Linked DNA regions of Homo sapiens. The protein of the gene in region 2 purifies or fractionates together with the protein of the main gene of each other region. This does not show direct contact. Each region holds a gene or a part of one and is shown on either strand. Other genes may lie near its edges. The genes, in order: TAB1, MTMR8 and MADD.

Evidence for each region.
Region 1: the proteins of MTMR8 (region 2) and TAB1 purify together in Homo sapiens (affinity purification with mass spectrometry, with the first as the bait; 2 studies listed by BioGRID). This does not show direct contact.
Region 3: the proteins of MTMR8 (region 2) and MADD purify together in Homo sapiens (affinity purification with mass spectrometry; 2 studies listed by BioGRID and IntAct, with this or other methods). This does not show direct contact.

The regions. Positions count from the first base shown.
Region 1 is NC_000022.11:39,402,780-39,406,475, forward strand, and holds part of TAB1 (TGF-beta-activated kinase 1 and MAP3K7-binding protein 1), read left to right. Parts: intron 1-3,696. UniProt on the Homo sapiens protein: Key adapter protein that plays an essential role in JNK and NF-kappa-B activation and proinflammatory cytokines production in response to stimulation with TLRs and cytokines.
Region 2 is NC_000023.11:64,393,310-64,397,083, forward strand, and holds the start of MTMR8 (phosphatidylinositol-3,5-bisphosphate 3-phosphatase MTMR8), read right to left. Parts: upstream 2,144-3,774; 5' UTR 2,055-2,143; coding exon 2,031-2,054; intron 1-2,030. UniProt on the Homo sapiens protein: Lipid phosphatase that specifically dephosphorylates the D-3 position of phosphatidylinositol 3-phosphate and phosphatidylinositol 3,5-bisphosphate, generating phosphatidylinositol and phosphatidylinositol 5-phosphate.
Region 3 is NC_000011.10:47,272,971-47,276,744, reverse strand, and holds part of MADD (MAP kinase-activating death domain protein), read right to left. Parts: intron 2,919-3,774; 5' UTR 2,831-2,918; coding exon 2,769-2,830; intron 2,183-2,768; coding exon 1,586-2,182; intron 847-1,585; coding exon 543-846; intron 14-542; coding exon 1-13. UniProt on the Homo sapiens protein: Guanyl-nucleotide exchange factor that regulates small GTPases of the Rab family. Converts GDP-bound inactive form of RAB27A and RAB27B to the GTP-bound active forms.

The DNA.
Region 1 (3,696 bases), on a different chromosome or scaffold from region 2:
GGCCTCAAGCAATCCGCCTGCCTGGGCCTCCCAAAGTGCTAGGATTACAGGTGTGAGCCACTGTGCCCGGCCACAAAGAGGTTCTAAGGAGAGCTTGATGTGTTCAAAAGGACCCAGACCTTTCAGCCGGATAAAACAGTGTTAGTCTCATACTGGCTTTGGGCAAATCACTTTATGTCCCTGAGCCTTAGTTTCTCCAAACCAAGAGGACTCTGGGGAGTATTGTTGGTGTTAAAGGAACTGACACATTCCACTACTAGCCTGGCTTGGTTGCCCGCTAACCAGAAACTTCTACCTTCAGTGCTGCCGTGAGTGAATGCTGTTCATTCCCTTAAATGTCCCTGAGCACTCACTATGTGCTAGGCACCCTGCAGGTGCAGGAGACACCGCCTTTGTGGAGCTGATGGTCTAGTAAAGGGGACAGACAGTGAGCACCGAACAGATACAGATCATCTGTGATTTTGTAATATCCAAACTACAGCATCAGGTGGTGCTATGAGGAACAGTCTAGATTCACACACAGAATGTTGGGGGTGCCATTTTGGACAGGGTGGTAAGGGAAGACTTCTCCACATTTGATGAGATGAAAACGGGGAAATGGGGGCAGCATTCCTGCCCAAGGGAGCAGGAGATGCAAAGGCTGCTGTTTCAGGAGCCTCAGGGGTGCTGGTGCAGCTGGGTGGAGTGCCTTGGGGGAGCTTGGGAGTAGCTGAGGTCTGAGGGAGCCGGGGGCCATGCTGGGCTTCACAGGTCCTGATGTGGCCTCTGGATTCCATTCTTCATGTGATGTGAAGCTTTCATGGGGAGCAGATTGAGTAGGGACCTGATGTGATGTGACTTTTGATTGGAGAAAAATCCCTCTTTTTTTTTTTTTTTTGAGACGGAGTCTCGCTCTGTTGCCCAGGCTGGAGTGCAGTGGCGCAATCTCAGCTCACTGCAAGCTCCGCCTCCCAGGTTCACGCCATTCTCCTGCCTCAGCCTCCCAAGTAGCTGGGACTACAGGCACCCACCACCACACCCAGCTAACTTTTTGTATTTTTTTTTTTAGTAGAGACGGGGTTTCACCGTGTTAGCCAGGATGGTCTCGATCTCCTGACCTCGTGATCTGCCAGCCTCGGCCTCCCAAAGTGCTGGGATTACAGGCGTGAGCCACCGTGCCCGGCCGAAAAATCCCTCTTTTGAGTTTGAGTGGTGAGAGTGGAAGCCTGGGACCTCCTAAGAGACTCCTAGAGTCATCCAGGTGCGAGAAGGTGTCTTGGCCATGGGGATGGCAGAAGAATGGTGGGAAGTATCAGATTCCAGTTGTGTTTTGGAGGAAGAGCTCATGTGATTTGCTGATGGATTGAATGTGAGGTGTGTGACAGAGGAAGAAGAGTCAAAAAGGACTCTTAAGGTTTTGGTTTAAACAACAGTGGTGCCATTTACGGGGTGAGGGAGCCCTGGAAGAGGGGCACCCTGGGGCAGGGGGAATCAAGAGTTTGATTTTGCCTGTACTGTTACTTAATTATAAAAAAGAAAATCAGGCTAGGCATGGTGGCTCATGCCTGGAATCCCAGCCCTTTGGGAGGCTGAGGCAGGAGGATCACTTGAGGCCAGGAGTTCCAGATCAGCTCGGGCAACATAGTGAGATTCAGTCTTTAAAAAAATTAGTGAGGCATGGTGGTATGTGCCTGTAGTACTTAGGAGACTTAATGGGGTGATTGCCTGAGCCCAGAAGTTTGAGGTTGTAGTGAGGCTATGATCCCCTCACTGCACTCCAGGCTGGGTGACACAGCAAGACCTGTTTAAAAAAAAAAAAAGAAAGTAAGCTTAAAATCAATTTTTTAAACTTCGACATGTCCTGAGCAATTATATCTGAGATCATAGGTGCTGCTATCTGTGTAATTTATCTAAAGGATGTTAAAATAAATACATAGCCACTAAAATAAAAAGGTCCATGGGGGTACCACCTATACCCATTGCATACACCCAGCTGCTGCCCTAGCACATTGGAAGTGCCAACAATGATTATTAGCCCCTTTAAGAATGAATGAGGAGCTCTTTAGGATGACGACATGGAGAACCTTCAATGAAAACTCCGGTGGGAGAAGTGGGGGCCAGGAGTGGAGCTGGTCTCAGAGAAGTGGGTCATCCGGAAGGTTGGAGGTGGTGGGGGCATTGGGGCCTTGGAAGCTTTTTGGAGAGAAAGGTCTGCTGCTCCCCTGCTCCGAGCCCTCTTCCTGGGGTTGTGAGTCTCCCTTTCTGAGCTTCCTTTTTGCTTCTAAGGAATGTGGGTGCTTTTACCACAAAAACACTTGGCCTTTTCATAGCATAATTTGGTATTCAAGCTGTGGCCTGAGCTTGGAACCATTCTTTGTCCATTTCTGCTGCCCAGGACTTTGAGATGAGTCTGTGTGGGTACTTTGTGAACTATTATGTGACATGGACACATATATACATGAGGAGTGAATGCTTACATCATGCACAGGGTGTTTGTAAAGGCCTTGTTGGGTTAAATACTGTTGGATCACTGTAGAAGCTTTTCATACCGAAACATTAATTTTGGAAACTCCTTCACAAAATCAAATCAAAATTAGGTCTTTTGAAACAGGCTTCTTAACGTATTCTTGTGAAATTTCTCATGAGCAGTTCATTTCTCAGACATGGAAGAGTTAAGTCCTGCGTTCGCTGTTGTGTGTGTTGCAGTGGCTCCGCGATGAGGCTGTGCTGAGTGAGAGACGCCCCCTTCTCAGCTTCTCGCAGACTCTTGCTCCCTGCGCTCCAGCGCCGCTCACGGCTGGTGCTGGCAGGCCTGGCATTTGGGGGCGTGGGAGAAAGTATGCATCAGTGTGTGCAGGGGTGGAGGGGTGGGTGGTTTGTGTGAATAGAAAGTACATGACCTTTCTGAAAATTGTTCAGAAATGTGGAGGAAGGAAGCGAGAGACTTGGCAGTCCTGTAGGCTTTAATGGAATCAGCAATGGACGCTCGGTATGGCTAATCCTCGATGGAGATGGAAAGGGACGGGAGAACACGATCCAAGCCTACTCAGCTGCAGCAGCGTGAGTCCGCTGGGGAACACGGAGAAGACCAGATACTCTCACTCCCACTTGGTAGAACCTCCTGAGGTTCTCCGGCCACTGTAGTGAACCAGTGTCTGGCGAGCGCCCGAATTACGTGAGAAACTGCCCATGTGTCATTGGATCTAAGACACCAATGTTTTAAGGACACGTCAGTGTTTTGTCTATTGCTCAGAAAGAGAACTCACAGCTAATTAACTTGTAACATACCAACTCCAGAGACGTTAACATGTGGAAAATGTAGGTCTTCAAATCAGTGAAATAAGGTAATCTAATTAACAATACCAGGCTATAGCACAATGGTTGCCACAGGGCCACTTTGGGAGGCCAAGGCGTGTGGATCACAAGGTCAGGAGTTCAAGACCAGCCTGGCCAAGATGGTGAAACCACGTCTCTACTAAAAATACAAAAAATTAGCCGGGCATGGTGGCACGCACCTGTAATCCCAGCTACTCCAGAGGCTGAGGCAGAGAATTGCTTAAACCTGGAGGGGCAGAGCTTGCAGTGAGCCAAGATCGCGCCACTGCACTCCAGCCTGGGCGACAGAGTGAGACTGTCACCAAAAAAAAAAAAAAAAAAAAAGGAATCATTTGAGTGAAAGATAGTTTCTTGAAGATGGTCAGTGGATGATTGAGGTTT
Region 2 (3,774 bases):
ACACAGTGCCTGTCACATAGTTAAATATTCTATACGTATTAGCTGCTATTATAATTTTCATATGGGCCCGTTAATGGTTTCTTCTCCCTTCCAATTTCCATAGAGCCAGCCCAGTTTATAGCTTCAATCCCTAACAGGGGAATTTTAATATTTTAACACTCAAGGACAGGAGCAGTTCTGCCTCCCCATCTTCCCCAGTTGTCAAAAGAGAGAAAAAAGGAGTATTCGAGTGAGCTGATTTTGAACTAGACAAGTAACGTGGCCCAAGCTTAGGTGGGTTGGGAGAAGAGGGAGTCTGGACAACAGAAGTTCCTTTCCTTTAATGGTACCACCTTCTTATACCATGTCAGAGGACCCGTACAAATGACATGATCCGGAAACAAAGGGACACAGAAAAAGGCAAGGCTGGCTGGCTTTTACACGGGATGTGGTTATCCTCCACAGAGAAAGGCCCTGAAGAGGAGGGAGTCAGAAAAAAAGGTTAAAGGTTGGAGTTTGTGCTTTGCCCATCAGGCAGCATCAAAGTTTTATGCTAAAAAGTGGGCAAAACATTACTAGTTACAAAAACTCTTTCACACACATCCTCTTATTTAATCCCACAACCATCTTGTGAAGTGAGCCGGGCAAATTTCATTATCCTCATTTGGTAGGTGTATCAGTCTGTTTTCACGCTGCTGATGACATACCCAAGACTGGGCAATTTACCAAAGAGGTTTATTGGACTTAACAGTTCCACATGGCTGGGGAGACCTCACAATTATGGAGGAAGGCAAGGAGGAGCAAGTCACATCTTACATGCATGGCAGCAGGCAAAGAGAGAGCCTGTGCAAAGAAACTCCCGTTTTTAAAACCATCAGATCTCATGAGACCCATTCACTATCACAAGAACAGCACAGGAAAGCCCTGCCCCCATGATTCAACCGTCTCCCACCGGGTCCCTCCCACAACACGTGAGAATTACGGAAGCTACAAGAGGAGATTTGGGTGGGGACACAGAGAAAAACCCTATCAGTAGGTGAGGAAAGCTAAGGCTCAGAGAGGTTAAATAATTTGTCCAAAGTCATTAGCTAAGTAGTTGGTGGGGGTGCAGTGGGCAGCACTTTAATTCAAGTCTTCTGGCTTCAAAATCCATGCTCTTTCCATTAAAAACACGCTGGATTTTTTACCAGGACTTCAATTAGCCTGGACCACGTGTGTTATGATCAACAGGAAAAAATAACCACAGACTAGTTGTGAATTTTTCACTGTTCCCCAGCCCCAGACAGGAGAAAGGAGGGAAGTGGATTTGAAACAGAAAGGGGCTGGCGTTGGGAAGGGAGGGAGTAGGATCTGGAAAGATGAGAGGAAAAAGTAGCAGAAGTAACTCTAACTCGGGACTGGCTAAAAACAGGTGACAACTGGCTAGATAAACCTCTTGGGTTTCTCCTACCGGCTGAGCAGAGCCAGATCCACTCTGCCCCACTCCTCTTCCTTTTCCATTGCCCAGCTTTGGCTGAAGAGATGCTGTGGCCCCCACAAACCCTCACAGGCATGCCGTGGAGCTGGAGCGAGAGTGGGGTTCTGGGCAATCCCTGGGGAAGGTTAGTGGCTGGAGGAGCCAAGAGGATGGTGAAGAAACGCTCGATAAAGGAAGTAACTCCGCAGGAGGCAGAGCAATGTGGGGTATTCGCGAATGGCGGTTACAAGTGCAGCTAGTATAAAAAGCTGAGATAAGGGTGAGTGTGAGGTCAAGGCTAGGGAGGAGCTGGAGTCAGAGGGCCAGAACAGGCGTGCACCAGGAGCGGGGGCGGCGTCGCGTAAGGGGACAGTGGTGCAGACCACCTCTTTCCCGGCCGCTGACGCCCGCAAGCAGATCCTAAGAAGAGGTGTTTGGTTGAAAGGGGGTGTGGACCCAGAAAGAGAACCCGGGACCCCCCACAGGAAAGACGCGTCAAAGAAGGCTGAGAAGGCTGAGGAGGTGTGTCTGGGCTCCCAGGTGAGCACCAAGAGGAAGCTCGCGGCTGTCAGCCTCGCTTAACTCTTCTCCTTACCTTGGGTACCGTAATATGATCCATGACTGCAGTTCCCGCCACCGGAAGATCTCAGTGCTACTCCAGATGCCGCCGCCACCGGTCTAGCCGCCTCCTGCCTCAACCCGGGTTTCTACCCCCGCCCTCCCGGTCCTGGCTCAAACTCTCGTCACCTGATCCTCGGCGAAAGCTCCTATCGCGACACTTTGACCGTAGCCGTTCCCGCCATCTTGCTTCCTGGCAAGTGCCCTTTTCTTCGGGAAATTGATTATTCTGGTTCAGGTTCAACGTTTGGCCGAGTCTTTAAGTCCCAGATTCGAGTACTGCCACCCTTCTCACCCTTCTTGATGCTATAAGGGCTCTGAACACAGATATCACTCCTTTACTCTAATATTACAATGATAGCATCCTGCAGCAGTAACACAGGCTGCCCCATGCTGGCAATTGGGTTTCTGAAGAGCTTCCTAGCTGTGAGACCTTGGGCAAGTCACCAGAGAATATTTTTTGAAATATGGAAAGGTATATCCTCCTCTCTATCTCTCCTTTATGTGTCTGCTGCCATCAACCTAGTTAAAATCTGGAATACTACAGTATCCTCATCACTTTTGCCATCGTAGATATGGGAAGAGGACCAAGAAAGGGCCCACTGGACCAGCTATCAGATGAGGGGTAAATAGGTGCAGACCCTCAGTGGTGTGCTCCAAGTCAGATTTGTGGTGGAAAAAAGAACAATCTGAGAGTTGGGAAATCTGGATTCTACTCCTCTCAGGTCTGCCACTAACTTGCTATGTGACCTTGGGGAAATCATGCCACCTCTCTGGGTCTTAAGTTGACCAAGGTTACAATGAGGGTATTGGCCACTATCTCAGGGTAATTTCTAGCTCTACTATTGCAGTGTTATGGTTTGCAATCTCACTGCCCCTACAAAATAATTTTGTTCTTCTTTGAGTTCTTATAACATTTGCTAGCAAAATTACTCGTTTATCATATTCTGCCTTCTTCCCTAGCCTGAAGGCCCTTCCCTCGATCCATGACCCTATTCTCCCTTGTACCATCGTTCCATCATGTTCAGCCCTTTCACTGCCAAATATCTCAAAAGAATAGTCTACTTATCATCACCTTCACTTCTCCATAACAAACTCACTCCTCCCTACCACTCCACTCAATTGGCTCTTTCACATCATCCTAAATTCCAGCTGCTGATTCCAACAGCTCTTCTCAGTGCTCGTTTTCTATTTGTTTTACAGCATTTAAAACTATTGATTCATATTCCTTTTTGACATTCTTTCTTCCCTTGACCTTTATTATAAACAAACTCACTGCCTGCATCCCCAACTGTTCCTTCTCTGACTCCTTCCCAGCAACTTTCTCTTTTTTTTAAGCCATTTTCCTGGCTTCTATCCTCATTCCTCTTCTATTTTCTTTCTTTTGGTTATCTTGATCTCTTCCACAAGTTAAACCCTTACTCCTGGATATGGCTTGGATCTGTGTCCCCACCAAATCTCATGTTTAATTGTAATCCCTTACGTTGGAAGTGGGGCCTGGTAGGAGGTGATTGGATCATGGGGGTGGTTTCTTCTGAATGGTTTAACACTAGCCTCCTTGGTATTGTCGTTGCCATAGTGAGTGAGTTCTCACGAGATCTGATGGCTTAGAAGTGTGTGGCACCTTTCCCTGCCCATTTTCCTCCTGCTCTGGCCATGTGAAGTGCCTCACTCCCCATTTGCCTTCCACCATGACTGGAAGTTTCCTGAGGCCTCCCCAG
Region 3 (3,774 bases), on a different chromosome or scaffold from region 2:
ACTGTAGCACCACCTGTCATGAGCCATCCAGTAAGAATCACTCCAAAACATAAAATATGGTTTACAAGAAAACAGCTTCCAACATTACAACTTGGTTTCCACTTCATCGAGCCTACAGCTCCAGCTTTGTCTCTCCCACTGCCCCCTGCCCCACCATGCCTGCCACCTCCCAATCCAGGCACAATGGTGATCCTCAGTCACCTGAGATATGCAAATCACTCCCTTACCTTCCTAGTTCTTGTACTGCCCATCCCAGGACCACTCACTGAAACAGAACTACTGATATTTCCAAAGAATTAGGTCAGTACAATTAAGGATAAGCCCTAATGAATGGTAAACCCTCTAAATACATCCCACATGATACCAGTATCTTAATTCAACCCACATCTACGGAACACCTGCTGTTTACCAGGCATCATGTTACCTCCTGAAGACAAAAAGGTGAAAAATATGTAGTCCCTGTCCTCTAAGAGCTCGTGGTCTGGCCACTGGCATATTTAAGAGTTTCTCCCCTAGAAAGGTCTAGGAAGCTTGCCTCTCACCTTGTGCTCTAACAGAATGCAGGTTAGCACCTGGAGACAGGCGTCCACACCTAGAAGTTCCAAGGGAAGGTGCAGTGGGAAATCCACTAGGGTGAATCGAGATGGGTCTGGAAGAGCAAAGGTCAGAGCTGGCTGGAGCTCTTGGGGTAGGACCTCGATGTCTACTCGCTTCTGCCCAGAGACGGGTACTGGGGAGCGCAGCAATCGATAGATCCAGGCCTCAATCTCTCGAAGGTCATGCAGAAGGGCACTTGACTTCTCCTCTACCAGCAGCGATCCAGTAAAGATCCGCCACATGGTGTCCCTGAGAAGCAGACAGCAGGAATCAGACACATTAGCATCAGAAGCTGATACCCTACTGCAACTCAGTATCACCACAGAGGCTCTAATGATGACAATGGGAAACGGAGCATCATTAAGAAAGCCCAGTCTCTGAGCTCAGATAGGACCGGAAAGTATATACAATGGCAAAAGCAAATGTAAAGATATATACTGGGTAAGACTTACTGTCCTAACCACAGTTAAAACACCAAATTCCAGCATTACTCCAAACACAATTTTGGAAAGAGGTCTAACTCTGCAGCAGTCTTTTGCTTAGTAAAGATTAACTCTTGGCTGGGGATGATGCTCACGCCTATAATCCCAGCACTTTGGGAGGCCAACGTGGGTGGACCACCTGAGGTGAGGAGTTTGAGACCAGCCTGGCCAACATGGCGAAACCTTGTCTCTACAAAAATACCAAAATTAGCTGGTCATGGTGGCGTGCACCTGTAATCCCAGCTACTCGGGAGGCTGAGGCAGAAGGATCACTTGAACCCAGGAGGCAGGGGTTGCAGTGAGCCGAGATCGCACCACTGTACTCCAGCCTGGGCAACAGAGCGAGACTGTCTCCAAAAGAAAAAAGATTAACTCTAAATACTCTAAATATGCTTAATAGGTCTGAAGGACCTTGAGCTGTAGAGGAAATTTCCTATGCCCCTCAAAGACCAATTACATGGAATCTCTAAATGCTTCCCCCATTAGGCATCAGCAGCAAACTGTACCTTTGTACGCCTCGAGGGATGCCCAGTTTCTTGCCCAGAAGGCGCTCACTACAGCAGTCCACCAGGCGCTTGAGAGTATACAAACACTCTCGGAAGGTGGAGAAGAAAGGGTAGTGGCTGAGCACGCACAGGGACGTGAGAGTACTGTTGCGGGAGCGGCTCCCCGCCTTGGCCCGGCGTTTGCCCCGAGGAGACTGGTTCACATCAGGGGTAGAGTCAGCACTGAGAGGCTGCAGGGATGAGCCACTCTCTGAGCTCTCAGTGCCACCCTCTTCTGAGGCACAGGTGGCATGGGTTCCTTCCTTCCCACGGGACCCTGCCCCACCTTCCCCCTTCTCCTTAGAGATTCGCTTTTGGAAGGAGCGGTAGAAGTTAACACAGATGCCATATCGCGTGACTCCAGTGTCCTTGTCAGTGAGGGTGAAGACAAAAGAGGTATCATCCCGAAGGCTCATGCGCCGCTGCCGCACGCTCAGGCAGCCCTCGGGCTGGCAGAAGAACACTACATCTGGGGGCAGGGGAAACTCAGTGTGATCCTCCAAGGGGTATCGCCGTAGCAATTCAGGAGTCTGGGCCACGCTATCACTGCTCGGGTGCCTGAAGAACATAAAGACAAATTCAGCAGCCTGAAGGGATGGAATGGGCTATCAAATTTTAACCACAGTCAACAAATAAAGCTCAAGATGCTATTTTGGATAAAGTAACCTGACTGTAACACCTTGGAAAATATGGGTGCTGCCTGCCGCATGGAGCTGGTAACCTAAGTGAAGTCTACACTGTCATGAAGGCATCTATTCTGAAACGAAGGGGAGATTTTGACAATAAAATTATCACTGGCACCTTAAGATGATTAACATCTTTTAAAGTGAATTAACTAATAAATTACCAAAAAAGTATACATAGAGGAGTAGCTTATAATGTACTTTTTCTTTTTACAAAATAAGAAAACTGAGGTATAAAGAGTATATTTGCTCGACATCAAGAAGATGTTAGTTAAGAGCAGGGTTTTGCTTTCAATCCACCTGATTTTGTTTTTTCCCTACTGGCTTCGATGCTCCCATCAGGGTAAAATAACAGGAGAAGATGAGCTATGCAAAGCAACATGGAAATCGGAGAAGGGAACAACTGCAGATTTTATGGCTATCCCAGATATTAAGACAAAAGTCAATCTCTTCTTGGTTACCTGGCCCCTACGATCACTAGATAGTCAAGTAACCGAGGACAGAACTTCTTCTTTTGCACCATGGTTCCAATTCATCAGTTTATCTCAGAGAAGCATCAGGGCACCAAGCAAGGAGTCAGCATTCCCAGGAGGAATTCTGAAAATCGAAGTCTAATAGGAAAAAAAGTACTGATAAGATCCACTGCTGTGCCTAAGGGACTCATCCCTCTCAACTTCTTCCCGGCCAGAGGCAGAGGTCAGAAGGTCTTCCACTTTCATACTAATGATAGGAGAACTTGACGCTTGCCTAGCCTCGTGTCTAGGCTCATGAGCTCACAGAATCGAATGTTAAAAAATAGATAGGCCAGGCATGGTGGCTCACGCCTGTAATCCCAGAACTCTGGGAGGCCGAGGCGGATCACCTGAGGTCAGGAGTTTGAGACCAGCTGGCCAACATGGCAAAACCCCATCTCTACTAAAAATACAAAAAAATTAGCCGGGTGTGGTGGCACACATCTGTAATCCCAGCTACTCGGGAGTCTGAGGCATGAGAATCGCTTGAACCCAGGAGGTGGAGGCTGTGGTGAGCTGAGATCGCACCACTGCACTCGAGCCTGGGTGACAGAGTGAGACTCCGTCTCAAGAAAAAAAAAAAAATGTAGATAAATAATGGTTCACCTACCTATCCCTACCAATGACTTAATTTCCAGCTTAACGCCTGGGGCTCTGTTTCTGAAAAACAGACCTAGGCCATCTAATCTGGACTCAGTCATTGTAACAAAAATTGAAGTCACTCTCAGGATCCCTCCAGGGTGGATCAGGATCAAACCAGACTCCTCAACTAGCTAGCACTAACCTGCACTTCTAGGTCTAGATGGAAACTTAATTATTCTGTTTCAACAATCTACATTCAGCTTGATGTAAAACTACCACATAGACTGTCTAGTTAACCATGCTCAGACAATAACAGCTGGCTATTCTACCTCATGTGATCTCAAATGAAAATGTCCATGCCCCAATTGCCTAA